Regions from separate parts of the Homo sapiens genome. Here all the other regions are linked to region 6. Evidence: fine-mapped expression QTL. A gene starts in region 6. Each other region holds a variant in brackets. All regions are shown on one strand. Distances are from middle to middle.

What was found. PIP is the estimated chance that this variant, and not a neighbour inherited with it, causes the effect. A credible set is the group of variants that fine-mapping cannot tell apart.
Region 1: its variant is the best candidate, but not a certain one, in a credible set for the expression of AMPD3 in whole blood (TOPMed, PIP 0.71).
Region 2: its variant is the best candidate, but not a certain one, in a credible set for the expression of AMPD3 in whole blood (Lepik 2017, PIP 0.58).
Region 3: its variant is the best candidate, but not a certain one, in a credible set for the expression of AMPD3 in whole blood (TOPMed, PIP 0.54).
Region 4: its variant is the best candidate, but not a certain one, in a credible set for the expression of AMPD3 in whole blood (INTERVAL, PIP 0.76).
Region 5: its variant is the best candidate, but not a certain one, in a credible set for the expression of AMPD3 in lung (TOPMed, PIP 0.81).

Annotation. Positions count from the first base shown.
Region 1 is chr11:10,479,085-10,484,201 of GRCh38, reverse strand. AMPD3 (adenosine monophosphate deaminase 3) reads right to left here. Exons shown (of 15, transcript NM_001025389.2): 4 at 1,977-2,139. Among named protein-coding and RNA genes, the nearest start is that of AMPD3, 26 kb to the right of the region's middle. RefSeq lists an enhancer at 4,957-5,117. The variant C/T (reference allele first, on the strand shown) is at 1,993.
Region 2 is chr11:10,557,140-10,562,256 of GRCh38, reverse strand. It overlaps LYVE1 (lymphatic vessel endothelial hyaluronan receptor 1), which reads left to right. Exons shown (of 6, transcript NM_006691.4): 4 at 1,457-1,762; 5 at 2,363-2,441; 6 at 2,960-5,117. The coding sequence ends at 3,146. All of the region lies in intron 1 of IRAG1-AS1 (IRAG1 antisense RNA 1), which reads right to left. Among named protein-coding and RNA genes, the nearest start is that of LYVE1, 9.0 kb to the left of the region's middle. The variant G/C (reference allele first, on the strand shown) is at 2,613.
Region 3 is chr11:10,410,933-10,416,049 of GRCh38, reverse strand. CAND1.11 (a long non-coding RNA gene) reads right to left here. Exons shown (of 4, transcript NR_103765.1): 3 at 5,074-5,117. Among named protein-coding and RNA genes, the nearest start is that of AMPD3, 42 kb to the left of the region's middle. The variant G/A (reference allele first, on the strand shown) is at 2,507.
Region 4 is chr11:10,499,650-10,504,766 of GRCh38, reverse strand. AMPD3 (adenosine monophosphate deaminase 3) reads right to left here. Exons shown (of 15, transcript NM_001025389.2): 11 at 4,518-4,681; 12 at 3,177-3,297; 13 at 1,873-2,046; 14 at 108-218. Among named protein-coding and RNA genes, the nearest start is that of MIR4485, 6.1 kb to the left of the region's middle. RefSeq lists an enhancer at 4,105-4,698. The variant C/T (reference allele first, on the strand shown) is at 2,795.
Region 5 is chr11:10,521,639-10,526,755 of GRCh38, reverse strand. It overlaps RNF141 (ring finger protein 141), which reads left to right. Exons shown (of 6, transcript NM_016422.4): 4 at 1,383-1,564. Among named protein-coding and RNA genes, the nearest start is that of MIR4485, 16 kb to the right of the region's middle. The variant G/C (reference allele first, on the strand shown) is at 2,539.
Region 6 is chr11:10,452,787-10,457,903 of GRCh38, reverse strand. AMPD3 (adenosine monophosphate deaminase 3) reads right to left here and starts at 2,640. Exons shown (of 15, transcript NM_001025389.2): 1 at 2,456-2,640. RefSeq lists an enhancer at 1,716-1,765.

The DNA of each region.
Region 1 (5,117 bases), 26 kb before region 6:
CCTCTATGCAATTTCCCTGCTGTGAGACTTTCAGCAAACTCCTTTACCTCTCTGAGCCTATCTCCTCTGAAGATAACACCCCCTGCCTTAACACGCTGCTGTGAGGGTTGCAATAGTGTGTATAGGAAAATTCTTCATAAACAGTAATGCACTACAAATAATGAATTATAGGATATTATTCTTATTATTCTCATAATTAGTTTTCCTGACTCTTGATAAACTCTGTCCCTGGCCAAGGAGTGTATTGATGCTAAATATCAGTAGAGCTGGAGGCTTCAACTCCATGCAGCTCAGCCAGCACCATCCAGGATCAGCTGTCCAGCTGCCAGCATAGGCAGGAGCAAACCTCAAGATCTGCATCAAAGGAAGCTGCCAAGGCAGAGTGACCTGCCTGGGCATCCTCCATCTGTGCTTGGAAGGAACAGACCATCCCTAGAGCACATGTGAGGAGCCACAGAGGGGCTGATGCAGGCAGAGCTGGAGAGGGGAATGCCCCATCAGGCACGGCCACAGGCCAGCTCAGGAGGCCCTAATGCAATGCAGTGGTCTGTGAGATGCAGGCAGTTCAAGGCCCGGGTGAAGCTACAGCCTGCATGTTCGGAAGTTGCTCCTCTTCCCCATACTCATGCCCAGAACCCAGGGGTCCTCTGTCCATGTAAAGTACACATTTGACAGTCATTTCTGTCTGTCTTTGCCAAAACTGGGGTGGTAGGACCCACTTCCCTCAGATAGGGAAATAGGCCCAAAGGGCTGAGATTTACCTAGGGCCCCAGATGCTCAAAGTACAGGACTTGAAATTCAAGGAAGCCAGAGACTGGGGCAACTTGGCACCACCAGCTACCCCCAGAGGCAGCCAGGGTCCCAGGCATTGATGGAGACCACCAGGCCCTTATGTGTCCCCCACCACCAACTTTCAGGAGTGGGGTTTCCTACTGTCCTCATCACTGCCTCTACTGCTCCTAGGTTCTTCATGGCAAGGCTTCATGAGGAAACCACCTAGCCCTCTCCGACCTCCCCTTCCCTGAACTCGGCAGCATAAATGTAGCTACCATTTATTGAACACTCACTAGATGCCAGAACTGAACTAAGTACTTCACATGCATTCTCCTGTTTAATCCTCACGACAGCCCTGGGAGATAGGTATTATTTGCATTTCCATTTACAGATTACATTTTACAAAGTGAGGCTTAGAGAAATATCTTTCCCAAAATCCCAAGAAATTGACAGAGCCCAGATACAAATGCAGGTGTGTTTGACACCAGAGCCTACATGTCTTCCCAGGGAACATGCCCTCTGTTCCTACTCCCACCCCGATCCACCCTACCACCAATTTGGCATTTACTGTGTGATTGTGTTCTTTTAAATATGCCACATGAGGCCAGGCGCAGTGACTCACATCTATAATCCCAGCACTTTGGGAGGCCAAGGCAGGAGGATCACTTGAGCCCAGGAGTTTAAGACCAGCCTGGGCAACATGGTAAGACCCCCATCTCTACAAAACATAATAATATATATTTTTTTAATTAGCTGGGTGTGGCGGTGTGTGCCTTTGATCCCAGCTACTTGAGAGGCTGAGGTGGTAGGATTGCTTGAGCCCAGGAGATTGAGGCTGCAGTGAGCCATGATTGCACCACTGCATGCCAGCCTGAGCAACAGAGCAAGACCCATCTCAAAAAAAAAGAAAAAAAAAATTCCCACATGAGACTCCCTGTCTCCCTGGTGGACTCCCAAGAACAAGGACTGTCTTTCACATCTCTGTCTTGACTTCAACAGTTCAGCTCTGCACAGGCTAGGCATACAGTACACATAGAATCAATCCTTGGGGGAACCATCAAACATCAGTGTGGGAGAAGCCAATGAAAGAACATTGTCATTTTAAAATACTATCAGGGGAAATAGACCGAGCCAGAAAAAAGCCCTGACTAGCTCTCGGTCTGCCCACACTTGGGACCCAACCTCCAGCCAGAGCTCCATACCTGGAAGGCCCTCTTC[C/T]GGAGGTGCAGTATCCGCCCGCGGATGACCCAGGTACTGGGATGTGATCCGCGGGAAGCGGTGGTAGGCGAGCCGCGCATACTTCTCCCGGATCATTAGGGCCTTGGCCAGACTCTTGGCTGCCTGCTCATAGTCCTCCAAAGTGATCTGCAGAAGGGAGGCAGGCAGGAAAGGGTTCATGCAGCAGGCCTGAGACTGCCATCCTTGGAAAGATGTGCTTGCAAGATTGGCCCTTGCCTGGTATCTGGGAACCTAGATTTCAGGAGGGTTCTCACCACTCCTTGACCAATAAGAGTGGTTCATTGCACCTAAACTACTTGTACAAACAATATGGTTTATGTTGGACACCTGCTTTCCTTCTGGAGCCTGGAATTTGAGATGTGCTATGCAGACATGTGACCAGCCCCAGTGAAAACCCTGGGCACCGAATCTCTAATGAGCTTCCCTGGTAAACAACACTTCCCACATGTGCTGTCACAATGTGATGCTGGAGGTATTTGGTATGTTCTGATGACTCTGCTGGGAGAGGACCTTGGAAGCTTGCACCTCGTATCCTCCATGTATCGCTCCCTTTGCTGATTTGCTCTGTATCCTTTCACTGTAATAAATCAAAGCTGTAAGTACAGCTATATGCTGAGTCCTGTGAGTCCTCCTGGTGAATCATCCAACCTGGAGTGGTCTTGGAGACCCCCAACACAGGAGACACAGGAGGAGTTAGGGTCGTTGGAAGACAGACAAGTGCTCCAGCCTGCACACCCAGAAGCCGGCCTCACATGCAGCTAATTAAGCCAAAAGTCTGTTTTTGTACCAGGCCCATGGAGGGACAAAGCCTGAGTCCTATCCCTGAAGGCGATGAGCACCGTCATTTTCAGTTGAGAAAATTCATGTGTCCTTCAGATGGCGAAACAAAACAAGAAGCAAAAGCAAATTCTGCATGCTCAGCCTGCTTCTTTGCCAACCCCACACTTCTGATTAACTCTGTTAATCACCCAACTCATCCAGGCAACAAGCCCCATTGTCATGTGTTATGTGCCAGACCTTTCCATAGATTTCATTTTGCTCCTTACAGCAACCCATTTTGCAAATGGGAAAACTGAGGCCCAGAGAGGATAAATCACTTGCCAGGAAGCTACAGAGTCAAATTTCAGACTCTAACCTGATTGAGTCCCAAAGTCTAAGGATGTTCTGCTTTACCAGAGCAGCCTCATATTCAAAGATGAATGAGATAAATTCCCGCCTTCCAACAGGCTCATTAATCTTAGTCTGTTTGGGAAGGATGGGAATCGCAGAAATATGCTTGGGGAGACAAGTGGCCAGACAGACACAATGCAGGGTAAGGGGAACAGCAGAGGGAGGCACCATATGCTGGCATAGCCCAGAGTGGGGAGGGCTGGGGCCTGAAAGTGATCTCCTCTGCTTTAATAAAATCATCATTTTTAATTTTGTAATATTTTAAACATACAGACAGGCACCAAAGATAATATAACCTACCTTCTAGAGCTGACAATAATATTTAGCATAATTCTTTCAAATTTCTCACAGGTTTAAAGAAATAAATCATCACAGATACAGCTAAAACTCTACTCTCCTCCCTACCCCATCCTCAGAGGGAAGAAGTCTGAATATATTTTTCCTATGCATGTTTTTATACTTTTACTAAATACTACTAAGAAGTAGTATTTAGTAAATACTAAATACAAAAAGCAAGACTTTTTGTTACGATGGTAGATTCTCCTTTCCTGCCTCCAAATGTCCCCATAAGGTATGTTAATTCCTTTTACATCTTCCAGTGGATGGCTTCTGAGAGCGGCAGGAATAGGTGAGCAGACACCGACATCCTAGACAAAAATATGTCCCTGCCAACAACGAAGCCAAATTCTTTCTCTGGGGAACCAATGGACTCAGCATGACAAGGGGCTCATGCCATGGCTAAGGACATCAGAGAGGATGCTCAGGACCCCTGTGGACCCGTGGCCACCGGCCAAGCTTACAGGCATCACAGGCCCCATGGCTGACAGCAGACCTACTGCGTGCCAAGGAGATCTGCAAGATCAGCCTGCCTCTCACAGACACTTAGCTTTCTGAGGACCAGTTGCCCAGTTCAGGTGCTCCATGCACTACTCTGTGCCAGCCAGGAGACTGGGAGAAAGAAGCTATTATATGCTACAGGCTGACATCCTCCCATTCAGCTGGTGGCCGACCCACCTCGACTCTTGCTTTCCAATGCCCTGCCCACCTGCCTCAGGTTGGGTGAACACCAAAGACTCATGGTCAGGATGCTGATCTCCAGACAAGGCCTGCATTGTTTCCAACCCAACCTAAACTCCCATCCATGGGAACTTAATTAAAATAAGCTATGATATATCCTCATAAAGGAATACTATGTACATATTTTTTAAAAGGACAAAGAAGTTCTTTATATATTGATATGGCATTATCTTTAAGATGTATTGTTAAGTGGAAAATGCAAGATGCAGTATAATGTATATTGTAAACTACCATTTTTGTAAAAATAAGTAAATAAACTATGTATGCATAAATAATTGTAGGTACATAGACCATATATGTGAGAATACATAAGAAACTAAAACCAGTGGTTGCCTCTGAGGAGGAGAATGGGTGGCTGAATAATTGATACCATTTTTGTATCTTTTAAATTTTGTACCATCTGCAAGTGTTCTCCATTACACATAACCAAAAAAATTTTTGAAAGCTAGGGGAAATTTTATAGGAAGAGCAATAAGCTGCATTGCTTTCTCAGATTCACCATATTTTCTACAGCTACTGTTAAAAAGAGACTAATGAAGCCAACTGAGGCGTTAAGTAGTGAGTTGGGGCCAGGGAGATGGAGCCAAACTTAACCCTGGCACTAACTCAGTGATATTTCTCTCCAAGAAGCAGACATGCATAAAAAATGCATCATCCAATCAGGTGAAATTAGCACATTTTCAGTGACTGCGTTAATTGACTTAGTGTAAACCAATTTGCTCAATTTCTAAACAAGATTCTCTCTTCCTGGTTGAAGGGATCTAGCCTATATTTAAGGGTATTGAACCTACATATAAGAAGAGATGATTTAGCAACAACTAATTTCACACAAACCACTCAGTACCATGGCTTTGAAT
Region 2 (5,117 bases), 100 kb before region 6:
CCTTCTCTGCCTCTTTGGTCTATCATCACTGGCTGGGGAATTGGTGAGCTACATATGCCTGCATACCTCATAGCCAGCCCATGCCTGTCAAATGGCTTTGCTTTTTAACTGCCTTCCTGCCAGCTGGCAATGTGATGATACCCAGCCCTCTGACTAAACAGAGAAGAGCCAGAGGAAGAGGACTTGGATTTGTCTATTTCCTCATGGTTTCATTTAACTTGTACTCCCATCCCATGTATTTCTTTTCTTTTTTTCCAGAGATAATTTTATTTTATTATTTTATTTTTATTATACTTTAAGTTCTGGGATACACGTGCAAAATGTGCAGGTTTGTTACATAGGTATACATGTGCCATGGTGGTTTGCTGCACCCATCAACCCGTCACCTACGTTAGGTATTTCTTCTAATGCTATCCCTCTGCTAGCCCACCCCCCAACCCCAGCTGATGCTACCCACTGCCACAAATAATTAGGGACTTAAAATAGATGCAAATTTATATTATAATATATTGCATGGCTCTGCCATTTACTAGCTCTGTGACTTTGGGCGAGTTATTCAATTTCTCTAAACTTCAGTTTCCTCCTGTGTAAACAAGGGTTTAGTAATATTGTTCAATGAGATACCTATTTAAACACTTACTGCCATGGTCAACTCAGATTAAGATGCTTTAACAAGTGTTTCCTCTCTAGCACATGCAACAGATTGGAAAGCAAACCCTTATCCCTCTCCTGGTCCCTTTTTGTTCACTTCTTTTTTTAATGAGCCCAGAAATATCAGGTCTTAGCATATCTTTGTCCTGAAGTGACACCACATGTGTATATTTGGTCTTCCAATCTATACTTTCCTTCCTTTCCCTTTTCCTTCCTTCCCTATTCATCAAATAGTTATTGAGCATGTGCTATGTACCACACACAGTGCTCATACCATGCTGACCAAGACAGACGGGGTTTCTGCTGCCAGAGAGCTTGCAGTCCAGTGGGGAACAGTGTAATGAGAACTGTGACAAGGAAGTACAAGAACATATGCCAATCAAGTCAACAAGTCTGCCTGAGAAAGACAGGGTCAATCTGAGACCTGAGGGATGAGTCAGAGTAAGCTAAATAAAGAGAGGCAAAGAGTCATAAAGGTGAATAAAGCATCGTGGTGCAAGGCTTGGATGTAAGATAAAGTGTATCAAGGAATTTCAAGTAATTTCAGTATGGCAGGGGCAATGAGAGAAAAAGAGCAGATGAGGCTGGCATGTTAGCAGGGGCCAAATCACAGAAGGCCTTGTAGGCCATACAACAAAGATAGCCACTGAAGGCTTCTAAGGAAGAAAGTGATATGGTTAGATTTGCTTTTTAAAGACCATTCCAGCTGCGGTATAAGGGGTTTGGAGGTAGTAAGACTAGAGGCAAGAAGAACAGTTAGGAGGCTGTTGCAATACTTTTATTCCATGTTTCCCTATCCCAACAGATACTTGGACTAACTCGTGCATTCCAGAAATTATCACCACCAAAGATCCCATATTCAACACTCAAACTGCAACACAAACAACAGAATTTATTGTCAGTGACAGTACCTACTCGGTGGCATCCCCTTACTCTACAATACCTGCCCCTACTACTACTCCTCCTGCTCCAGCTTCCACTTCTATTCCACGGAGAAAAAAATTGATTTGTGTCACAGAAGTTTTTATGGAAACTAGCACCATGTCTACAGAAACTGAACCATTTGTTGAAAATAAAGCAGCATTCAAGAATGAAGCTGCTGGGTTTGGAGGTAAATGGTTTCTGTGTCTATGTTACGTGTGTATGTATGTTCATGTATAACAGATAATTCATAGAATCCTGCCTGTCTTTAGATGAGGCGCTCAGGACCTGTCAAATACTAATAAAAGCTTAACACAAACTCAACTTTCATGAAGTCATAGAATCTGAGAGCTGTAAAGAACCTTAGTGATTAAGCTAAAAAGTGTAAGTATAAAAGAATTTCACTGTTGAAAACTCAAGACTTTTAAAAATAAATCACTATCTGTTCCTATGCATAAGTTCTTTTTAAAATATATACCCTAAAGGCCTATGACTTTATTCTAGTCATCTCTTTCTCAGGCAGGCTTGTTGACTAGAGTAGGTCTCAAGGCCATGGAGGAGAAATGAACTCTGTCATATTGCAACTGATAGAATTGAGAGTGTGAGAAGCAAGGCCAATGATTCTACAAGCATGAAGCAAAGAAGCTGGTGTGGGCCCAATATCATAAAGGGCTACAGAGAAGGTTTTTCTCCTGTACTGTCTACTGTCTCAATCACCTGGATCATGCAATGAGCATTACACACAATGTTTAAGTGAAGGACCAACAGGCCTTGTCTCTGTTCCTTGCAGGTGTCCCCACGGCTCTGCTAGTGCTTGCTCTCCTCTTCTTTGGTGCTGCAGCTGGTCTTGGATTTTGCTATGTCAAAAGGTAGGGTTGTTGGTGCACTGCTAGTCTTGTAATCTTTGTCATGTTTCTATCCTGTGCTTTTTCAGGGTCACTGTTGGCATTTTGCTGATCAAAATGGAGATAGCAGTCCTCTGATATAAATTTCTCCCTCATCTCATCTCTTTCCCTTCAGCCCAATCTTTTCTATTTCAG[G/C]ACATGCATGTCGTCCAGCCATCAGTCAATGACTGTCCTTTGAAAATCAAGAAATTAAAAAAAATTGACATCTGGGGAAAATTTATATGCTTTATTTGATTTTTGGTTCTTTGTTTTTGTTGGAAGAGTTATGTGGTCAGCCTAAAGTCTGGCCTGCAAACATATTGTCCAATTTAAATGAATCCATTAAGGTGGTGATGTCTTAATGTATTAGAGCATGCATGTGCTGGCATCACTCTGAAATAAAGGTATCCAGTGTACTGTGCCAATATGTACCATGGCCAAAAAGTGTTATCTATCGTTATGTGTGAGAGTCTCTCACTTTAATTTCATGTTTCTGCCTAAAGGTATGTGAAGGCCTTCCCTTTTACAAACAAGAATCAGCAGAAGGAAATGATCGAAACCAAAGTAGTAAAGGAGGAGAAGGCCAATGATAGCAACCCTAATGAGGAATCAAAGAAAACTGATAAAAACCCAGAAGAGTCCAAGAGTCCAAGCAAAACTACCGTGCGATGCCTGGAAGCTGAAGTTTAGATGAGACAGAAATGAGGAGACACACCTGAGGCTGGTTTCTTTCATGCTCCTTACCCTGCCCCAGCTGGGGAAATCAAAAGGGCCAAAGAACCAAAGAAGAAAGTCCACCCTTGGTTCCTAACTGGAATCAGCTCAGGACTGCCATTGGACTATGGAGTGCACCAAAGAGAATGCCCTTCTCCTTATTGTAACCCTGTCTGGATCCTATCCTCCTACCTCCAAAGCTTCCCACGGCCTTTCTAGCCTGGCTATGTCCTAATAATATCCCACTGGGAGAAAGGAGTTTTGCAAAGTGCAAGGACCTAAAACATCTCATCAGTATCCAGTGGTAAAAAGGCCTCCTGGCTGTCTGAGGCTAGGTGGGTTGAAAGCCAAGGAGTCACTGAGACCAAGGCTTTCTCTACTGATTCCGCAGCTCAGACCCTTTCTTCAGCTCTGAAAGAGAAACACGTATCCCACCTGACATGTCCTTCTGAGCCCGGTAAGAGCAAAAGAATGGCAGAAAAGTTTAGCCCCTGAAAGCCATGGAGATTCTCATAACTTGAGACCTAATCTCTGTAAAGCTAAAATAAAGAAATAGAACAAGGCTGAGGATACGACAGTACACTGTCAGCAGGGACTGTAAACACAGACAGGGTCAAAGTGTTTTCTCTGAACACATTGAGTTGGAATCACTGTTTAGAACACACACACTTACTTTTTCTGGTCTCTACCACTGCTGATATTTTCTCTAGGAAATATACTTTTACAAGTAACAAAAATAAAAACTCTTATAAATTTCTATTTTTATCTGAGTTACAGAAATGATTACTAAGGAAGATTACTCAGTAATTTGTTTAAAAAGTAATAAAATTCAACAAACATTTGCTGAATAGCTACTATATGTCAAGTGCTGTGCAAGGTATTACACTCTGTAATTGAATATTATTCCTCAAAAAATTGCACATAGTAGAACGCTATCTGGGAAGCTATTTTTTTCAGTTTTGATATTTCTAGCTTATCTACTTCCAAACTAATTTTTATTTTTGCTGAGACTAATCTTATTCATTTTCTCTAATATGGCAACCATTATAACCTTAATTTATTATTAACATACCTAAGAAGTACATTGTTACCTCTATATACCAAAGCACATTTTAAAAGTGCCATTAACAAATGTATCACTAGCCCTCCTTTTTCCAACAAGAAGGGACTGAGAGATGCAGAAATATTTGTGACAAAAAATTAAAGCATTTAGAAAACTTCTTTGCTTTCTTATTTACGTAGATGCATTATACCTTTCATGTAAAATTAAAGTGAGGACCAGATCATATCATATTGTTTGCAAAAATAAAAGGGACAATGTTGGTTGTTAAAATACAAGCATATGTCAACCAAACAGCATATATCATATGGGGCTATTCATGCTCCAAACATTTTATTTTGAGTTGGCCAAGTACATACACATTAAACAGTCCTTTACTAGAGATGCTGGCCCTCCATTTCCATCCATTTCAGAATTCACCAGGGAGCCAGAGATCCAGGATGGCTCATTCGTCTCACTTTTGACCGCCCTGCTTCTCTAGTTTTCTCTTTCCCTCCCGCTTAGACTGCTAATTGTCTTCTTCCCCTCACCAGTGACCCCACAGCTCCGTGGTTCCTTCGGCCCAGATGCCACAACCTGCTGGCATAATCTTTTCCGGTTGGCCCACGGAGTATAATCTTAAAATTTGATTTCATTTCCAGGCATTAAAAATCAAGAGATTTCACATGGTTACATTTCTGGGTTCCCTCTAAAAATGGAAAGATCTGGAAGTAAAGAACCCATGTTCCCTCATAGCAATCATTATCTGATACTGAGTAGCAGCTGTCCCCTTTCAATGGGGTCTGCTCTTTTTGTTTCACCACAGTCCTCATGACTCTCTGTTGCACACTCATGCCAAAGTAAAGGTGCCCTTTCCTATGAACTTTGTAACACTGTGGCCTTTTCTT
Region 3 (5,117 bases), 42 kb after region 6:
TGACCTCAGGAGTCCTTGGCCTCCGAAGTGCTGGGATTACAGGCGTGAGCCACTGCACCTGGCCAAGACTCATTTTAAGCAAGCAAATCATTTCAATGCAGACAGTATGGCATGCAGACAGCTTGAGATGCAGAAGAAGACTTAGAAGCAAAACCAGACAATAAATGAAGAGGATGCTGACAGAATCAGGACAGAGATAATCTCCTGGACACATCTGGCTACAGCTGTCACAGTCCCCTAGAGAAGAGGGACTGGCATCAATAACTGAACAGCACTTCACCCTTTTTGTGATGATTTTGTGTCTATACATTTGCTTAATTCCACTTGTATAGTTCTCATCTCCTAGTGCCAGTATAGTCATTCTAGACTGACCTCTGTGTTGCCATTGTCTTTACAGAGTTCAGGAGAAAACAAAACACCATAAGAAATGCTTGTTGTTATTTAAACAAACAAACAAAAGATACCTAGGCCAGGTGGATTCCAACAGGTAGTCACTGTTTAGGTTCTGCTGCCCAAATGGAGCCAATCAGGTAACTGCTGTCCTTGCCCACTTGGCAAATGTAGAACAAGCCAGAACATTAAAAAACACAGCCTGAACATGCCTCATGGCTATGTGGGTGTGCCACATATTACACAAGGACATAAATTAATTAAGAAGCAAGGAAGGGACTTAGGACTGGGTGAGACATGAAGGAGTCCAAGAAACAGCAAGAACTCCAATCACTGAGAACATGACCTGGGAACCTGCCAGCCAACTGTGCCATCAAGTTAATAAGAATGTGTCGGCCGGGCGTGGTGGCTCACGCCTGTAATCCCAACACTTTGGGAGGCCGAGGCGGGTGGATTACAAGGTCAAGAGATCGAGGCCATCCTGGCCAACATGGTGAAACCCCGTCTCTACCAAAAATACAAAACTTAGCTAGGCATGGTGGTGTGCGCCTGTAGTCCCAGCTACTCCGGAGGCTGAGGCAGGAGAATCGCTTGAACCCAGGAGGCAGAGGTTGCCGTGAGCCGAGATCACACCACTGCACTCCAGCCTGGCGGCAGAACGAGACCCCATCTCAAAGGAAAAAAGAAAAGAGAGAAAGAGAGAACGTGTTGCTGAGAGATGCCAAGTCTCTGCAAGATGACTGAGCGTTTTTCTTGTGCCGCCTCTTTTCTAAGAAGCTAAAGAAGAGGCGATCACAGCTCCAGGACTGCAGGCACATCAGGAAGGAAGTGGGAGGTCCTGGGGAAGCCGCCACCAGGGCTTGGCCGGCTCATGCTCTTCTCAGGGCAGCAAGAGTTGAGGTTTAGGATGCTGAGGTTTCAAAAGTTTGGCTGACTCCAGCCTTCCTTAGTTCTGTAAAAATTCCACAGGAGTGCTGTGATCCCCCTGAAGCCTCCAGTCACTCCTAAAGGAAATTATTTTCAGGCACCTTACTCCCCTCTTTCCTCTCTTCCAGATGTTAAGTTTTAGCTCTCTTCTTTGTTCATAAATATGTTGCTATTTTTGTTTTTGTTGTTTTTCCCCAAACCAAAAACTTCAATAACCACAGAGAAACACAAAGAAAAGGAAACGGTGATAAATAGCCATTGCCCACACTCCAGCCCACACTCTTAGAGAGAATGTGCTCTTAACATCTGCTCCGAGCTAGACCACAGATTTTAGTTTTAACATGGAGGAAAAATAGGCTTCCTTAAAAAGAGCCACACAGGAACATCCTGTATGTCACAGTCCAGGAGCCTCCTACGCAAAAGGGAGCTGGAAGTCAGTGCCGGGTGCAAACGACATGCATCTTCCCTGTCTGATGGTCTCGGGGCCTCCCAGCCATTCTGAGTCCCACTCCTCACCATTGCACTTGACGGAGCTGGCTGACCACGTGGAAAATTACCCAAGGGCCATAAAAAAAAAATTTCCAGAAAGTTACAGAATGTCACAATGGAAAAGCTGTGCGGCTTGGGACAAAAGAATGGAGCAAAATCTTTGCAGAGCAACACGTACTGCACCTTTCCTGAGCTGTCCCACGCTCCCCACATCCACTGCCCCTGCCCTCACCTTTCCCTTCAATTTGTGCTTACTGACCCTTTATAAAATTAGGAGACTTTGTGTCATACTCTGGCCTAGAATGAAGCAAAAGTTCAAGAGACACGCTGTGGAATGCCTGTTCTACCCACATCCCCCTCTCCAGGGACTGTCTCTACTCCTAGTCCCTTTAGCTTAACTGGTCATTCATTCATTTATTGTACATGTATGTATTGAGCACCTATTGTATTCCAAGCACTGTGGTAGATAAAGATATGAAAAATGAGCAATGCAGACAAGGACCCTTTCTCATAGAGTCCATTTTTTAATGGGGAGAGTTAGCTGGTATGCAAGTAAACAAATAAAATAATTTTGGATAATGATACCTACTATGAATTTTTTAAGACAAGCAAAACAAAGTGATGTTCTAGAGCACGGGTCCCCAGGGCCATGAACCAGTACCTGTCCATGGCCTGTTAGGAACTGGGTGGCACAGCAGGA[G/A]GTGAGCTGTGGGCCAGCAAGCAAGTGAAGCTTCCTCTGTATTTACAGCCTCTCCTCATCGCTCACATTAGCACCAGAGCTCCACCTCCTGTCAGATCAGTGGTGGCATTAGATACTCATAGGAGCGCGAACCCTATTGTGAACTGCACATGGAAGAATCTAGGTTGTACGCTCCTTATGAGAATCTAATCCCTGATGATCTGAGGTGGAACAGTTTCATCCCAAAACCATTCCTGGAAAAATTGTCTTCCATGAAACCAGTCCCTGGTGCCGAAAAGGTGGGGGACCACTGTTCTAGCAAATGATTTGGGAGAAGGGGTTCCTACTTTAGATAAAATAGACTAAGAGAGCCTCTCTGAGAATGTATGAGCTTGCACCTGAATGATGAGGAGTTGTGGCTGCAGTAAGCATCAAGATTGTGGCTGCAGTCTTCCTTCTTGGGCAGAAGGAAGAACAAGTATAAAGGTCCTGGGGTAGGAATGGGAGATGACCAGAAAGGCCATAGTGGATTAAGCCTGTGTAAAAAAAAAAAAAAAAGGAGTTTAGGCTGGGCACAGTGGCTCACACCCATAATCCCAGCACTTTGGGAGGCCAGGAGTTCAAGACCAGCCTGGGCAACATAGTAAGACCAAATCTCTTTTTTAAAAAAAATTAGCCAGGTGAGGTGGGGTATGCCTGTTGACTTAGTTACTTGGGAGGCTGAGACAGGGCCTGGGAGTTTGAGGCTGCAGTGAAACATGATGAAGCTGCTGCACCCCACCCTGGGCAATAGTAAGACCTCATCTCTAAAAAGAAGAGAAAGAGTTTGCAGAGGAGCAGAGGCCTTGGTAAGAAGTGTGAAATTTATTTTAAGGCAACAGGAAATCACTGGAAAATTTTAAACAAAGGAGTGGCATAACCTGATAGACATGTTTAATGGAATCATTTGGCTACTATGCGGAAGGTGGATCCTTGGAGGGCCATAGTGGAAGCCAGGAAACCACTCAGGAGTCAACTGGAATAGCCCAGGCAACACATGATGGTGGCCTTGACAGGAGCAGTCAGTCAGCAGTGGCAATGGAGAAGCAGACTCACTAATCATATATCATGGAGGCACCGACAGGGCTTGCTGACATAGTAAATGGGAAAGGAGAAAGGAAGAGCAGAGTGAAGCATGATCCTGAGTTTTGGCCTTCAGCCACTCAGTGTATGAGCATGACTTTGATGGGAAATACTAAGAAGGAACTGGTTTGGCGGTGAAAATCAAGAGTTCAGGTTTGCCCAGTTAAGTTTAAGATGCTATTAGGCATCCAAATGGAGATGTCTGGGAGAAGTAGATAGTTGAGATTCAGGGAAGCTATCAAGGCTGCAGATAAATATGTGAGAGTCATTGGTATATAGAAAGTATTTAAAGCCCTAGGACTAGATGAGATCAGCTAGGGAAAGTGTATAGATAGAGAAAAGAAGAGGACCAAAGAAAGAGTCCATGGGAATTCCCAGAAGAGGAAGATATAGCAAGAGAGGGTGAAGCATGCTCAGTGGATGTAGCAGACAAATCAGAAGCATGTGTTATCATGAAGGTCAAAAGAAGCAAGTTTTTCAAGAGTGGTCAAGTGTGTGGAATGCTGCTGAGAGACTGAGTATTATGAAGACAGACAGCAAAGTGACCAAGAGATTTGGCAACATGGAAATGGTGGTGTCCTTGACAAGAACAGCTTCAAAGGACTGATGGAGCTGAGAGAATGTGTTGAACAGTGACTAGGATTTCTAATGAAACATGGGGGTGTAAACACATGTGGTATGTCCATTCCATCCTGACACCCACTAAAGTAAAAGTAATGAAATTTTGTTAAAAAAGAAAAAGAGTGAGCCCACAAGAGCAAAGAGAATGGCATGAACATGACAGAGGACAAGAGAAGTCAATAATTATTGGAAGAGGTAAGAAGCTGGATGATAACCAGCTTAGCAAAGCAGAGAGAGCTGAAACCAAAGTGAATGCAAAGAGAAATGTTAGCAAGAAGCAAGCAAATTCCGACCACCGACCCCACAAAGCCTCATGCATTGGAGCCAGGGTGAAAAATGGGGCTGAAAACAGGTGGATAGGGCAGAAGTCTTTATAAGAAAGTGTTTCTACCCCAGTCCTCCTCCCAACTCTGCACTGCCTGGAAACTATCCTGGTAGGCCATAGATAATTTCATCTCCAGAGAAACTGATCCAGAGACACTCAAGGATAAGCGATACCTGGCAAAGAGGAAGTTAAAGGTGAAGCACTGTCCTGAAAGCAGGGAAATTAAGTGAAATCTACATATGGGATGGTGAGACCCTCCCACCTTCCCCAGCTCAGCAGCCAGCCCTGTTGACAGCCCTCTCTGGAGGGGACTTAGGGGCTGTGGGTTACTCCCACTCTGGCTGGTAGCAAAGTTAGCCATGTACAGGCAGAGGAAGCCAATCAAGATGAGAGGAGAGAGAATGTAGTAAAGAAGAAAGATGCTGCTGTCCCTGGGAGATGTGGACAGCTTTGGGTGCTGGCCTCAGGCCAGGAGCAGATAGCCCTTCCAATCACATGACCTGGTGCATGCTCACAATACCTTTTCCTTGAGCCGCTTGAGTAACTTCCAACCTCCTAGGCAGA
Region 4 (5,117 bases), 47 kb before region 6:
GCCCTGCCTGCTATGTTCATCACAGATCCCCAGTGCCTGGAAGGCTCCTGGCACACAGCAGGCAGCCTTCCCAGGAGGGACACAGGCAGCACCGTCACACTCCATACCTGATGCGAGAGGCCGCTCTGCAGCACGCTGTTCCTGGCGATCTCACACAGGTCGCAGGTGCTCAGCTTCCACACTTGAGCTGCAATGGCATATTCTTCCATAAGTGCTTCCTAGATCCTCCCCCAAAGCATGTGGATTAGAAGGGGGGATATCCATGTCAATCGTTCACACATGTCCAAAGCTAACAACATCAGACACTGCGGGTTTAACTTTTCCTCACTAAATGGCACCTGGATCATCAAACATCACACCTTCAAAGCCTAAGATCTTTTCTTCTGTAAAATCATGGGTTATCAAAGAGAGATCTAAAATCACGCCTCTACATTTATTCATTGACCAGCACTGAGACCTCATGTTGAAACCCTGTGCCAGTCATCAGGGATGGCAGTCTCTGCTCTCCTGTGACAAGCCCTCTAGTCATGCCACATTTAGCACTTGCCCTCTAGCTTTTCTTTTTAACACACTATTTTCTTAAGTTTGCAATAGATAGATAGATGATAGATAGATAAATAGATAGATAGATAGATAGATAGATAGATAGATGAGTAAAGTACTAAAAGCAGAGATGGAACATCAAAAAAAAAATGAGAAGTGATCATAGGATAAGTGGTAAAATGGTGTAATCCCAGAATGATCTGGGTTTGAGCTGTGGTTTTGCTTCCCTTCTGGGATGTGAAGTGTCTATTCATCACAAGCCGTCTGTGACCTCTTCCCCACCCCACTGCCGCTGTAGCCTAGAGCAATAGTTCTCGAAGTACAGGTCAAGGACCCCTGAGGGTCCTAAGACCTTTTGAAAGGTCTTGTCTTTTCCAATTATGTATTTTCATGAGGCAAGATTTCTATTTTTACATATTTTGATTAAAAACAAATTGAATGCAGAAGTGGCTAGAAGAGTCCTGCTGACTTCCATTAAGACATTAAAGAGGCTTAAAAATGCAAAACAAAGGCAGGGGAAACTGTTACTTTTCAGAAAAAAAATCATTATTATGTAACATTTCATTGGTTTATTGATGTGGTTTTTAAATGAGATAATAAATATTTTAAAATTTCTTATTCATTTCTAACATGGTAAATATCAGTAGATATAACCCACATAAACAACAGGTCTTTGAAAGCTTCAATTCTTAAGAGTATAAAGGGGTCCAGAGACCAAGAGGTTGGAGAACCTCTGTCCTAAAAGACTCTGGTGCTTCTGTTTTTGTTAAGCAATGGCTGGTCTTGTCGACACCATCAAAACATGCTGGGTATACTTGCGGCTAGTCCCCATGCATGACACCACTGTTAGCTTCCTCTTTTATTTTCCCAGAGACCCAAAGTGTAGAAATTATAATAGCATTGATTTAAAAAGTAGCAACCATTTTGAATATATGCAGACACTATGTTAGAACCTTTGATTCATTATCTTCATGAATCCTTACAGGGTAGGGACAGAGAAAATTTTATCTCCATTTTACAGATGAAGAAGAACTTGATCCAGAAATCTAATAACTTTACCAAGGTCACAGAGCTCATAAATGTCAAAGAAAGAGAAAATAGAGGAAGGCAAAGATACTAAATTGTGCCTTTGAGGGTTCAAGAACCCCAAAGAAAGGGCTCCTGGATGGCACAATTTTCCCCCAACAGTGGCTTCCTTCCTGCCTTCACTGGGCCACCAACCCCACCCCAAAAGCAGAACTAAGCCATGGGCTCAGGTTCCTGAAATGGGAGGACAGGCTAGGACTGGTGCCTACTGAAGCACTACTGTCCTCACCCCAAAGTCCTTACCTTCGTGTAGTGGAACTGCATGGGGTCATCGGTGGAAAGAGAAACATGCAGTCCCTTGTGTAGGAATTCCCTCAGAGGGTTCTTGGAATATTCGAGGAACAAACTGTTGTTGCTAAGAGGAGACATGGCAATGGGGATCTGAGCAAGGTAGTAGAGATACTGCAATACCGGACTCTGCAAAAGAACCACCGAACTCATGTGACAAGTGCCAGAGAGGGGAGAAGGGAAAAGGGAAGGGAGAAAGGAAGGGAAGAAGCATTCACCAGTGGAAACCAGGGGTCTGAACCATGTCTGCCCAAGTCCTCAACCCGAGTTCCTCGAAGCCAGGACACTCAGACCCACTCTCCCCTTCCCCACTGTTCATCTCATTCCTACATTGCATGCCAGCCCTCCCTGGTGCCTCTACCCACTGTTGGAAGTGCTCATTCTTGCTCCAAACTGGAGGCAAGGCTCAGGGCAGGAAGGGCAGCCCACTCCAGCCTACACCTTCAGCTCCTTTCTCCTAGGCACGGACCCAGTCTAGAAGATGCCCCCCTCTAGCTGTTTTATTGCTTTGACTGCAAACAGCCAGGTTGAGACTATAAACACTCCAGCTCCTGGGAGATGATCCCTGAAGGGATGGGAGGGGTGGACCTGCCCAGGATAGAGTGGTTTTCTACTGTAGCACCCACCCCACCCAAAAATGTGACCCATGGTTACACCTCACCGGGATCAGGGAAAGGGAGCATTTTGATCAAACATCGTGCCAATGGAAAGTGATCCAAAATACGGAGAAGACTGTATGCACAGAGCTCAAGGGTACACCAGTGAAAAGGTGGATGGACTCTGTGCCCAACTAGTGTGGACTGGTTGAGTCAATTACAGACAAAGTGGCAGACCCTTCATCCAACAACAGCCTTTGGAAAAAGGAGCATAGATATTA[C/T]GTTGCAGCATCAAAAAATGCTTGTCATACAACAGTAAGGGACGAGGCAGGAACCAAATTCTGTGTTCATTATGATAATAAACACATTAAAAATATGCTGTGGATAAAAGATGGAAATTAGATATACTAAAAAGCTAATAATGGCTATTTCTATTAATGTAATAGCATAAGGGCTGGCTTTTTTCCATTTCTCCAGTTTTTGGAAAATCAAAATTGTGATGAGTTTGATTATATTACTTTCATAATTAAAAATAAAACCAAGATAAGGACAGACATCCCAGCCCAGAAGAGGGCCCAGCCTTCTGGCCTCACTGGTTGAGCCTCCCAGGAGCCCAGGGCAGGGCAGTCACTCAGGACGGGCTCCCGAGAGTGACCTGGTTACCTTCTTGAGGAGCAGCCCGTGGGAAATGTTGTCAGCAGTGAGGAAGGCAGACACCAGGTGGGTGATGGAGCCGGCTTCCCCACAGTGCGGCCGGAACAGGAACGTGCTCAGGCCGCGCTCCCTGTAAGAGAAGGGGTTTCCGAATCAGGAAGGCCCCCCCCAGTTGGCTCTGCCTGGGGCCTGCAGCCACAGCTCAGGGCCAGCTCCGGGGGGAATGACCACCCATGGTCAGCTGTGCTGACCCAGTGCACCCTGGAAACTACCCCTCCTAAAATGCAGAGGTCCAGGCCCTGGGGCCCCTTAGAACCAAGAAGCATCACCTCTACGGGCAGAGAGTGGGCCTCGCAGTAGAAAGAGACCCTGCTGTGCCCTCCAGCCACTCTCCTGAATTCCTCTCCTGGCCTTGTGTCCCGCATTCGTAGAACTCCAGAGCAGGGAAGGCCATGAGAAACCACAGAGTCTGACCTCTGTGTTATGGAAATGGGCAAACCAAGGCCCGGAGAGTGAAGTCTATGTTCCATGCCACTGAACAGGTCAGTAGCAAAGCCAGAACCAGAGCCCCCATCTCCAAAAGCTCAGCCCAGGACTGCCTCCACCCTGCCAGGCCATTTCTTTCAATCAGGACCCCATTCGAAACCTCCACACCCACCAACTAGCACCAGTTTAGGCTGAGCTAGAGAGACCCCAGGGCCCAGCAGGGGAAAGTGGGATGCAAGACTTGTAGGGAAGGGAATGGCTCAGTGTCCTGCTGCCCTGGGCAGCTAACTCCTGGCCACGTGTGCCTCGTCTGTGTGCGTATTGGTAGGAGCCTCTGCCTGTAAGGGCATGCATGGATTTAGTCTGTTTTGTTCCCCGTTATTTGTCCAGTGCCCAGGGCAATGCCTATCGCATGCCAGATGCAGTGATTTGCTGAACGAAAATATGCACGTGTGGACATTGTTGGTGTGGCAGTAAGTGACCGTGCATGTGTGATAGCATGTCCTATGCTTCCATTATCTCAGGGATGTACAGGTACACGTGGAGTGTGCCCTGGTGTGTGTACATATAAATGTGTGGACACGTGTGGACTGTGGCTGCATTGCATACTGTACATGACATATGTCTGTACTGGCATGTGTGTTATGGTGGGCATGTTTGCATGTGTGTGATCATGTGGAGACATGCCTCATATAGCAGGCTGGAAAGTGCTGTGTGTTTTGAGGTGTGTGGGCACATGGACATGCATGTTGGTTCAGGTGCACACGGACACAAGGATCACATGCATGTGTGTGTGCATGTGTGTGCATGCGTGCATGTACTAACACATGAACCCAAGCATGTGCGAGGGCAGGCCTCACGCACCTGCGGAGGTTGTTGAGCACCATGATGTTGGCATACATGTAGTACAGGTAGTAGCTGTAGGGTGGGTTCTGCTCACTGGTCCAGACGTCCGGGTTTGGGCTCTTGTCGGAAAACATGTGGTCGCTGTGCTTGGACTCATCATCCACGCTGTCAAACCCCGTCACCTGGGCAGGAGAGGTCCTGAGCACCAGGCCAAGGCAGGACCAGGACTCAGCCTCGGTTCAGCCTCCCAGAGCTCATAGCTGCCAGAGGCCTGTGGGTCTGGGCCCCTCAGGTTCACACCTCAGCTGGGGACCCCTTGGCCTGCCTGAGGCCATATTCCTCCCAGGGATGAAAAGTGGGTACAACACCAAGGTCTGCCCCTTCGGAGCTTCCATAGGTACTCTGGAGGTGAGACAGGAGAGTGCCAAGCCCCTGTGTGGTGGTGGTGACAGTGGAGGAAACTGCCAAGCCAGGTGAAGGGCAAAGCAGCCATGGCCACCACCTGCCCCTCTGCTATGCCGAGGCCAGCCTGCAGGGAGGAGTGGCCATTGCCATCAGCAGCAGCGACAAGCGATGAGGGAAAAGGGTCCTAGTACACATCACTCATCAAGCCCTGCT
Region 5 (5,117 bases), 69 kb before region 6:
GGCTGGAGTGCAGTGGCGCCATCTCGGCTCACTGCAACCTCCGCCTCCTGGTTCAAGTGATTCTCCTGCCTCAGCTTCCCAAGTAGCTGGGACTATAGGCGTGTGCCACCATGCTCAGCTAATTTTTTGTACTTTTAGTAGAGATGGGGTTTCACCGTGTTAGCCAGGATGGTCTCAATCTCCTGACCTCATGATCTGCCCACCTCGGCCTCCCAAAGTGCTGGGATTACAAGCATGAGCCACCGTGCCTGGCCGCATGACTCATTCTTGAGTCTCAGTATTTTTTTCCCTGCCTTTTCAAATAGTAAGCAATTAATAAACGTGTTACAACTATTATTTTCATTTACAATATTCAAATGTATAATAATATTTTAAAATATGTAATCTACCTCATTTTCTGATACCCCTAGTTCCATCAATACATTCCAGAACCTAAAGTCACAATTTTATGGCCCTGTGTCTTTGTCTCTCTCCCTATATTCTTCATTTCTTTCTAAATATTTTCTGATTTTGCTTGTTCTTACTCTGATATGCACTTAATAGATTTCATGGCTTACTTCTTCCCCAGTCTTCCATCCTATGTCTTGTGCTGAAAGGAAGTCTTTCATGTCTCTAATCTTTCTCTGATTTCAAGTTCTTCATCCAAGAACATTATACCTTCACCTTACTGGCCTCGGTCATTTCATTATGCCTCACTCCATGGCTCCCCAAAGCTTGTGAAAGCAATCTCCTCTGCTTGCCCCAAGTATCTTCTACATTAGATTGTAAACTGGATGGGGGAGAGGTACAACCTGTAAAGGTACAACCTTTGGGCCACTGGTTTCACCTCATATTAAACGAGTTTTTTGATAAAGCTCAAAATGGCCTTCTGGGAAAAGTCCAACCACCTTTTGTTAGGATTTATTTTAAAGTAATTTTCTTGCTTTAGTTTAGAAGTTTTGGTACAAAATAGAACTTAAAGATATTTAAGAAAGTACTTGTTTGAGTTGTAGAATCTCATGCGGTTGTTGGAGTCAAATGAATCCTGTGGTTAAGAAATTCTTTAAGAAATTAAAGTGAAAGAATTGTTAATACTGATCTCTAAAATTTATTTCTTAACTCTGAGAAAGTCACCTTACCCATCAACAGCATAATGCCTAATTAATCTTACAGGGTGATTTTGTGTGTTAAATGAGGTAAATTTGTATAAGAAGTTTGAACCCCACAAGTGTAGGGGACATGGTATTACTCATTTATTCAGACTCTTGCTTTCTTATGTAATTTGCAAATCCTGAAAACTCCTATTTCCTAGGATGTTTGACTAAATATTTGTTCCCCCTTTTTGGGAAAAATTGGTCAGAGAAATGATCAACTTTTCTTTTTCATGTTCTTTGTATTTTTAGATTAACAAAAGCAGTGGCATTGTGGAGGCATCACGGATCATGAATTTATACCAGTTTATTCAACTTTATAAAGATATCACAAGTCAAGCAGCAGGAGTATTGGCACAGAGCTCCACCTCTGAAGAACCTGATGAAAACTCATCCTCTGTAACATCTTGTCAGGCTAGTCTTTGGATGGGAAGGTATATAATGCATAAGTATTGTATTTCACTTATTTTCTAATATGAAAACAACTGAAATCTATTAATATTTTTGCTGTTGCTCATTGTAGCATCTTAAATCTTTTTTTTTTCTCAGTTGGTATTGTATCTGAGATCAGTTTTGGGGTTATTCTGTGCTTCGGATGTTGTTACAGTGCTAAATTAAAGTGGCTTGGCAGGGCCACTTTAATATTAATGTTTCTGTCACACTGGTCTCCAGGAATCCGCTCTATATGCATGCATTTATTGACAAAGGAGATAGTTAACACCTTCCTTATAATAGGTATTTAGGTTCTTAGACAGTCAAAGCTTTTTAGGGAATTAGGTCAAAGAATTTGGCAAAATCATCCCACTTTTTTTAAAAAATGTCTAATTGAAGCATTAAAATTTTATATATTGGCTTCAGGACTTGGCAGTCCATTCAGGAAGGAACCGAATGCATATACTTAGTTACCAGAAGGAAATGAAGTCAGCCAGAGTTTTCTCTGATGATGTTTGTTTACCCAGGCCTAATACATTATTGTTCTATCTAAACTTTCTTTTCCTTCTCTGTTATGCTTTTGGCACATGAAAGTTCCCACTTCTTGACATTTGACAATCATGATCATAATTTAAATTTGTAAATATCTCATTGGAAAAAGATTTACATGGGTCCAAACATGTTGACATCCTGTCTTACTGTCATACTGGGTAGATAGCAGAAATCTATATTCACCGTGTCCTTTACCTTAAAGTTAAGAATGTACTTAACAGTGATTTTTTTTTTTTTAATTGAGGCGGAGTCTTGCTCTGTCGCCCAGGCGCGATCTCGGCTCACTGCAAGCTCTGCCTCCCGGGTTCACGCCATTCTCCTGCCTCAGCCTCCCAAGTAGCTGGGACTACAGGCGCCCGCCACCACGCCCGGCTAATTTTTTGTATTTTTAGTAGAGACGGGGTTTCACCGTGTTAGCCAGGAC[G/C]GTCTCCATTTCCCAACCTCATGATCCTGCCCTCCTCGGCCTCCCAGAGTGCTGGGATTACAGGCATGAGCCACCATGCCCGGCCAGTGGTTTCTTTTTTTTTACTGCTCTATTTACAGTTGCATTTTCTGGTTCATTCTTAACCAACTGGTTTTCAAGCACTATGTTACAGTTAAACTGTATTTTCCATTTATTATTTCCCAATTATCTTTAATAGAATTACTTGGTTTTCTAGGTTTGGTCTATACAAGTGTTACTGATAGGCCAAGTGACTTTTAGAACATGGTAGGCAGTGTTTAGGCTTGTCTTTCCTGTATTCTGTAATCTTTCAAAGATGGATCTGATTTTTCTGCTTTTCTTCTCTCCAGAATAGTGGTTGTTGTTTTGTTTAATTGTTTTAAAAGCTGAGGATGGTGTTTGCCAATGTATTTAAGCTGTATGGTAGCACATGAAAAGAAAGTATTGTTTTTTTCTTGTTACAGTCTTCTTAATGAAGAAGGTAAAGGTGTTATCCCTTTTCATGTGCCCTCAAAACTGGAAATTCAGTTCCTGATTAGCTTGTTAGGGGTGCTTCTTGTTTTTGTGTGTTTTTTCAGTTTATAATAATACCCTTATACACTAGTTCACAGAAAGAGACTTTCTAAATTGAAGGAGGTCTTAAGGGATATTTATGTAGTTGAACTTTACATCTGATGCATAATTCCATTGATGTTTTACATTTATTGATTACTTACAGGGTATAGAATTGTGATGAGTGTTGTACATGTATAAACTCATTAAATTCTCACAACCCCATATGGGAGTACAATTATCGGCCCATTTCAGCCAAAGAATCTGAGATTTAGCTAAGTAAGTGTCATGATTAGAAATTGTTCTAGCCAAGACTCACATTCAGGCCTGTCTGGCAGTACAGCTGTGCTCTAACCTATTACTTTATGGTGCATAAAGATCTTGCACACAGAGCTTCTGAAAATTTATTACTCAGTGGTTTTGAGGAGGAGCCTGAGAGTCTGTCAAGCTCCCAGGTGGGGCCAATGCTGCTGATCCTCAGATAACACTTTGAATAGCAAGACTCTGCTTACCCACATTTTGCCAAGTCCGACTTGCAAGTACAAGTAACACCTGCAGTTATGTGAGACTCACTGCCTGAAAAAAGCAAGCCTTTTCATACTCAGATGGCTCTAATCACTATGAAGTTTTTCCTATTGCTTCATTTTCCTCAGAGTAGCCAAAATCTTTCTTGAGGCAGCACGGCACAGACTCTAGCAGCAAGTTGCCTGTGTTCAAATCCTGGCTCCACTCCTGTGTGATTTTTTTGACAAATCAAACTGTTTCCTCAGTTTCCTCATCTTCTAACAGAGGTTGATAACTGTAGTATATGCTTTATAGGATTTTTGAGAGAATTAAAAGACATAAGATGCTCAGAACAGTGCTTGACACATAATAATTTGTCTATAAGAGTTAACTGTCATTATTATTGTTACTATATTCTATTTATTGTTTTCAATGGCTGTGCCCTCTGGAATTCCTCCAAACAAATCTGTTCTCTTTTCCAGCCTTTCAAATATTTGAAAACAGTCATCAAATTCTCACTGAACCTTCTGTTCTCAAGGATAAACACCCCCAGTTCCTTTGGCCTTTGTTTATGTGGGTCTCGTCTACATACTGGAGGCTTTCCCAGATGGTCTTTTCTCTGTCAGTATGTGTGCCTTTCAGAGTATGAGGCATAGAACCAAATATTCCAATCTACAGGTGATCTAACAGGAACAAACAGCACAAGACTCTCCTTCCTTCTGGTCACTGTGCTGCTAAGAAGGTAGCAAAAAGTTAAGAGAACTTTGTACTGGTTCCACTGGCTATTTCTGTATCTCCCATTCTTTTATCTCTCTCCACAATGCTCTTCTTTGTAGTCCTCTGCTTCTCACTTTTAAAGTCCAGCCTTCAGAATATTCTTTCACTCTGTACAGATTCAGTTATATTCTCTGCTACTGAGAAACTCAGATACATTAGACCCATATCCATCTAGGTTTTTATTCAGTTTTCCCATTCCAATTCAGTGACTTCCCTCTTTTCCCTGTTACTAACGTATAACACTTAATCTATTACCACATAAAAGATTTGTCTTTTATAATGCTTCTTAGACCTAATTATCTCTCAGATGAATTGCTGAAATAAGATCCTAACCAGTTTTCCTCTTTCTAGACTGTCCCTCATACTGCACTCCCAATTTATCTTCCTGAAGTACCATATCAGTTGGAGTTCACTTCCCCTTGATTATACACTGATTGTAGTTTGCTTGTCAGGACACGTTCAAACTTAATATTTTGACATTTAAGGATGAGATTATCTCCACTTTATCTAATCAATCTTTTTCCTCAGTTTTCCATACCCAAGTATCATGCCAGCTTCCTGGTTACATATACACAGACATAAACACACATGATTTTGCTTTTTACCTCTACAACTTTGTTTATGCACCTAGAATGTCTTCTATTAAAATCCTATTGTTTTTCTATCTCATCATTTCAACAAGTTTGAGATATATTCATCTCTTCCTTCTTTACTTAGCACTTACTATA
Region 6 (5,117 bases):
ATTGATTGATTGAGAGACAGGGTCTCAGTTGCCCAGGCTGGAGTGCAGTGGCACAATCACAGCTTACTGCAGCCTCGACCTCACAGGCTCCGGTGATTCTCCCACCTCAGCCTCCCGAGTAGCTGGGACCACAGGCACACACCACTATGCCTGGCTAATTTTTGTATTTTTAGTAGAGATGGGGTTTCACCATGTTGGCCAGGCTGGTCTTGAACTCCTGGTCTCAAGTGATCCGCCTGCCTTGGCCTCCCAGGGTCTAGGATTATAGGTGTGAGCCATCATACCAGCGCACAAAGCATTTTTAGCTTGCTCTAATCAACTAAAAATACTTTTCAGGACACAGCTTTCTATAACATATCTTCCTTTCTCTTTAGCTTAAATCAACCTTTCCCAAACTGGATGCCATAAGAAATTGATACCTGTTGCTGGTAAAACAGGTCCTGTGGTCAGTTATTGGGAGATGTTGCATTCCACAGCCCCTCAACTCACATTCATAAGGCTCATTAAAATCAAGGATCATAGAGTAACATTAACATACAGAACCCTTTTTGTTTTACAGAACCCATAAAAATCTTCCGCAGAACTACTACCAGTGTCTTAAATAGTTGGTAGATAATTCATTCCAAGACCGGGTGCAGTGGCTCATGCCTATAATCCAAGCAATTTGGGAGGCTGAAGAGGATCGCTTGAGGCCAGGAGTTCGAGATCAGCCTGGTGCAATATGTCAGAACCTCATCTCTACAAAAAATAGAAAAAAAAACAGCCAGGTGTGGTGGCATGCACCTGTGGTCTCAGCTATTTGGAAGGCTGAGTTGGGAGAATTGCTCGAGTCCTGGAGGTGCAGGCTGCAGTGAGCCATGATGGCACCACCGTACTCCAGCCTGGGTGACAGAGCAAGACCTTCTCTCAAAAAAAAAAAAAAAAAAGCAAGAAACAACAGCAACCACAACAAAATAATTAATTCCATATCTTAGTATGGACCAAGTAACCCACTTGGGGTGCTGCAGGCCTTAGCAGCTGCCCCCACATCTGCTGCCTTCTGGATGTCCTTGGCAGACAGCTCCCACCTGCCAACCCGTCCCTCCAGAGTGTCTCTCCTCTCAGACCCTCCAGACACCTGCCAGGCCAGGCCTGACAAGGAAAGCTCACTCTGCAGATGCCAAGCAGAGCTTCAGCTCCAGCTGCATGTTCACGCCTGGCTTCCAACCCTTTGTCAGCTGAAGCCAGCAGGCTTGGGAGGCTTAGCTGTGAATTCACCAGCATCAGTCAGCCAATGATACAGCTTATCTCACTGTTACATGCAACACGCTCTGATGAACTTGAAGAAGTGTCCCAAAGTTAGAAAGTTCTAAAACACTGCCAGTTTCAACAAACAGTAACTTTTCATGGTGCCACAGTCCCTCCAGAAAGGAAGCCCAGTGCCACTGAAATCCCCTCGTTATACGAAGGAAGCTGGTTCCTACTCTTGCCAGACTCCCCTTGCAGAAGCCCCGACACAGACCTGAGCCTGGCTCCATGACTGGTCCTGAAGATGCCACTCAAGTGATGCACCCGGGTGAGGTGCTGCCTGCCACCCAGGAGGCTCAGCTGAGTCAGTGCGTGCGTGCAGCTGGCTGGGTCCTGTCTGCCGGCTGGAGTAGGAGGTCTCTGTTTTGCATATCTGTGAGCAGCAGTGAGCCAGAGCAGGAAAAGCCTGGGCTGGAAATTCTCTCGTGAATATGAAATATGAGTGGAAAATTTCCAAGAGCCCTGAAGTCCCCAGGTAATCCCAGTTATCCAAAACAAAATGGCTGTGGTATCCTGAATGCAGTGTCCTGGCCCTCTTCACAGCCCTCACAAGAGGAAACTAAAGCGGCGGCTTCCTCTTTACAACAGTAAACTCAGCCGTCCTGCCCAGCTGCAGGAGATAAGCCACAGCCTCCCTCTAACGCCCAGCCTCCTCCTGAAAGCTGAGTAGCAACGAGCGATATCATCACCTTTGCTGCTTCCGTTCTGAACGTGCTTCAGGCCTGGCTGCATTTTATCAAGGGGATTGGTCTCAGGTACAGCCCGACCTGCCTCTTCTCAGAAAGCCCCCCTAAAGCAGCCCTCCCAAGGGCACCCCATAACTGCCAGGGGGAGCTTCAATCCCAGTTGCTAATACAATCCCCTCCATCCCCTCCTCCTCTGAAAGGGAAAGACCATGAACTGCTTCCACCTTTCCCAGGAAAGGACAGAGACTCAGGGAGCAGGAACTGCCTCAGCACAGAGGCGGACAGAGGACAGGGGCAGGCTAGGATGAAAAGCTGACAGCCCCATCCCACTCCTTCCTTTCTTCCCAGAAGGAAGCCCACATCACAGGTGACTGCGAAGCCTGATAAGCTTTACCAGAACCCCCACCCCCATCCACACACACAGAAAAGGAGTACACCCCAACTGACCCACCGGAGCCCACCCCAAACCCTCCCCTGCTTACAGCCGCTCACTGCTCCCACGTGGGCCTCCAGCTCCGAGCGCTGGCTGGACTCTGCCACTCCTCCTGGGGAAGGTGGAGCCTGCCTCAAGTGACCCACAGGAGCAATCCTCTAAAACCAAGCAGGGTTGATTAAAATGGCATCACAGGGTGCAAAGCTCTGATCTTCATCTGCCCTTTAGGAGAGTGGGAAGGCTCAGAACAGACACATAGCCTCCCAGTGACTTAGGCAAATCCTGTGGTCCTGGGAAATAACCATGAGCAAAATGGCTATTTCTGTGGTGCTGTTGAAATCCTGGGGAGAAGAGCTCAGGAAGGATGGGTCAGTTGTTTACCGGGAGGCTAGCTGTAACCCTGACTTGGGCCTGAGTCACCTCCGCATGTCCAATCGTGAGGTTGTGTCTTACTGAGCTCACATCATAATTCCTGTGTGCACAGAGCAGTATTACAGGGTTGACACATGATCCTCGGGCTGCTGCTGGGCTTTAGCTACCCAGAGATTACGGCCCACCTGTCCTCACAGCTGTTTCATAAACAGTGCAACCAGCAGGCTACAAGCAACCTAGAGGGAGGGTAATATTTATTCATTAAACAATTAAATGAACTTACAGTATGAGAAAAAAATCCAAGCCCTTAGTACTATTCTGCCAGAAGGAGGAGGGGCAGATGACTTTTTCTGCTAGTGTTTTGGGGAAAGGGGAGGTAGAGTGGGGACTGCAGTGGGAGGATTCCAGCCCAAGGATTTAAGTCCGACACGTTCAGGGAATTTTATTCTGCACCTTTAACCGGATCCCAGCTAGCCTTAGTCTAAACAAGCATTTTTCAAAGTGCAGTCTGCAGAACATGAAAGGTCAGAAGGCTTGGAAAACACTGCATCCTGTAGTCCCTTATGGGTATTCATGCACAGTTTCTACTAGCAAATTCAACACCTGAGAAGTCCTGCAGTAAAGAAAGCTGCTTAACTTTGTTTAACCCGACGCACTTATTTGACCATCCTAGAACTGCTGTCATAGGAAAAAAACACCTATTAATATCTTGTGGTATCGGCTTTGGGAAACACCCTCCACCTTGAGTCTTCATTTTCCAACTTAGAGAAAGCTGCCTTCCTGGAGCCCAGTTTACAGGTATGAGACCCATTGCATCGGGTTCAGACAGAAACCAGCAGCAGCTCCACTAAGATGACACAGGTTGTAACAATGACCAAGGGTCCTGCTGAAGCCAAAAGGCGGGAAGACTCCCCAGAACATGGGCAGTTTAGAAGAAAAATACAGTTCTGTCCCAGAAGAGCAAGCTCTTCTCAGGACCTCACAATTCCACCTTGAGCCTAACTTGTTGCTGCTTCTTGCAGCCAAGATGTCTCTGTGGACTGAAGAGCACTGATCCCAAGCTCAAAGCCTTATTTCCCTTTCGAACAAACATCAAGACAATTTATGATAACCAGATACAGGGCCCGCTTCTCCTGCCCGAGACTAGACTGCATCCCCTTTTATCACTTAAGCACCCCTTACAAACTCTAAAAGACAGGAGAGGACGGAATCAAATTATGTCTCATCAAGAAAGATATCGGCCGGGCATGGTGGCTCATGCCTGTAATCCCAGCACTTTGGGAGCCCGAGGCAGGTGGATCACAAGGTCAGGAGATTGAGACCATCCTAGCCAACGTGGTGAAACCCCATCTCTACTAAAACACAAAAAATTAGCTGGGCATGGTGGTGCGCACCTGTAGTCCCACCTACTTGAGAGGCTGAGGCAGGGGAATCACTTGAACCCAGGAGGCAGAAGTTGCAGTGAGCTGACATTGCACCACTGCACTGCACTCCAGCCTGGCGACAGAGCAAGACTTTATCTCAAGAAAAAAAAAAAGAAAAAGAAAAAGAAAGATATCACTCTCCTCCCCAAAAGCCAGGCATGAGCTTGCATAGAGGGGTTCATTTTTCTTCTCATTTGTGAGGTGTGTGTGACTCACACAAGGAGTTGGACAAAGGGGATTCACTTGCTAAATACCAGCTCCATGACAAATCTCGCCTGTCTCATTCACAGTTGTATCCCCATACCTGAAATATGGTCGACATTCAGCAAGTATTTGTTGAATGAATGAATGCATAAAACAATGAACAAGTGAACTAGCTATTTATAATAGATCAATCCACCTATGGCAATCTCAGGAATGAGTAGAGTGTATGGCTAAAAACGTAGACTCAGGCTGAGTGTGGTGGCTCACGCCTGTAATCCCAGCGCTTTGGGAGGCCGAGGCGGCCAGACCACTTGAGGTCAGGAGTTTTGAGACCAGCCTGGCCAACATGGGGAAACCCCATCTCTACTAAAAACACAAAAATTAGCCTGGCATGGTAGCGGGCGCCTGTAATCCCAGCTACTTGGGAAGCTGAGGCAGGAGAATCGCTTGAACCCGGGAGGTGGAGGTTGCAGTGAGCTGAGATTGTGCCACTGCACTCCAGCCTGGGTGACAGAGTGAGACTCCATTTCAAACAAACAAACAACAACAAAAAAAACTCCAGCTAGACTCCCTGCATTTGAATCCTGTTCCACCACTTAGTTGTATGACCTTGGGCAAGTTAAATAACTTTTCTGTGGCTCGGTTTTATTCCCTATGAAGTGTGGATAATAAAAAGCCAATCTCATAGGTTGCCATGACAATGAGCATAAG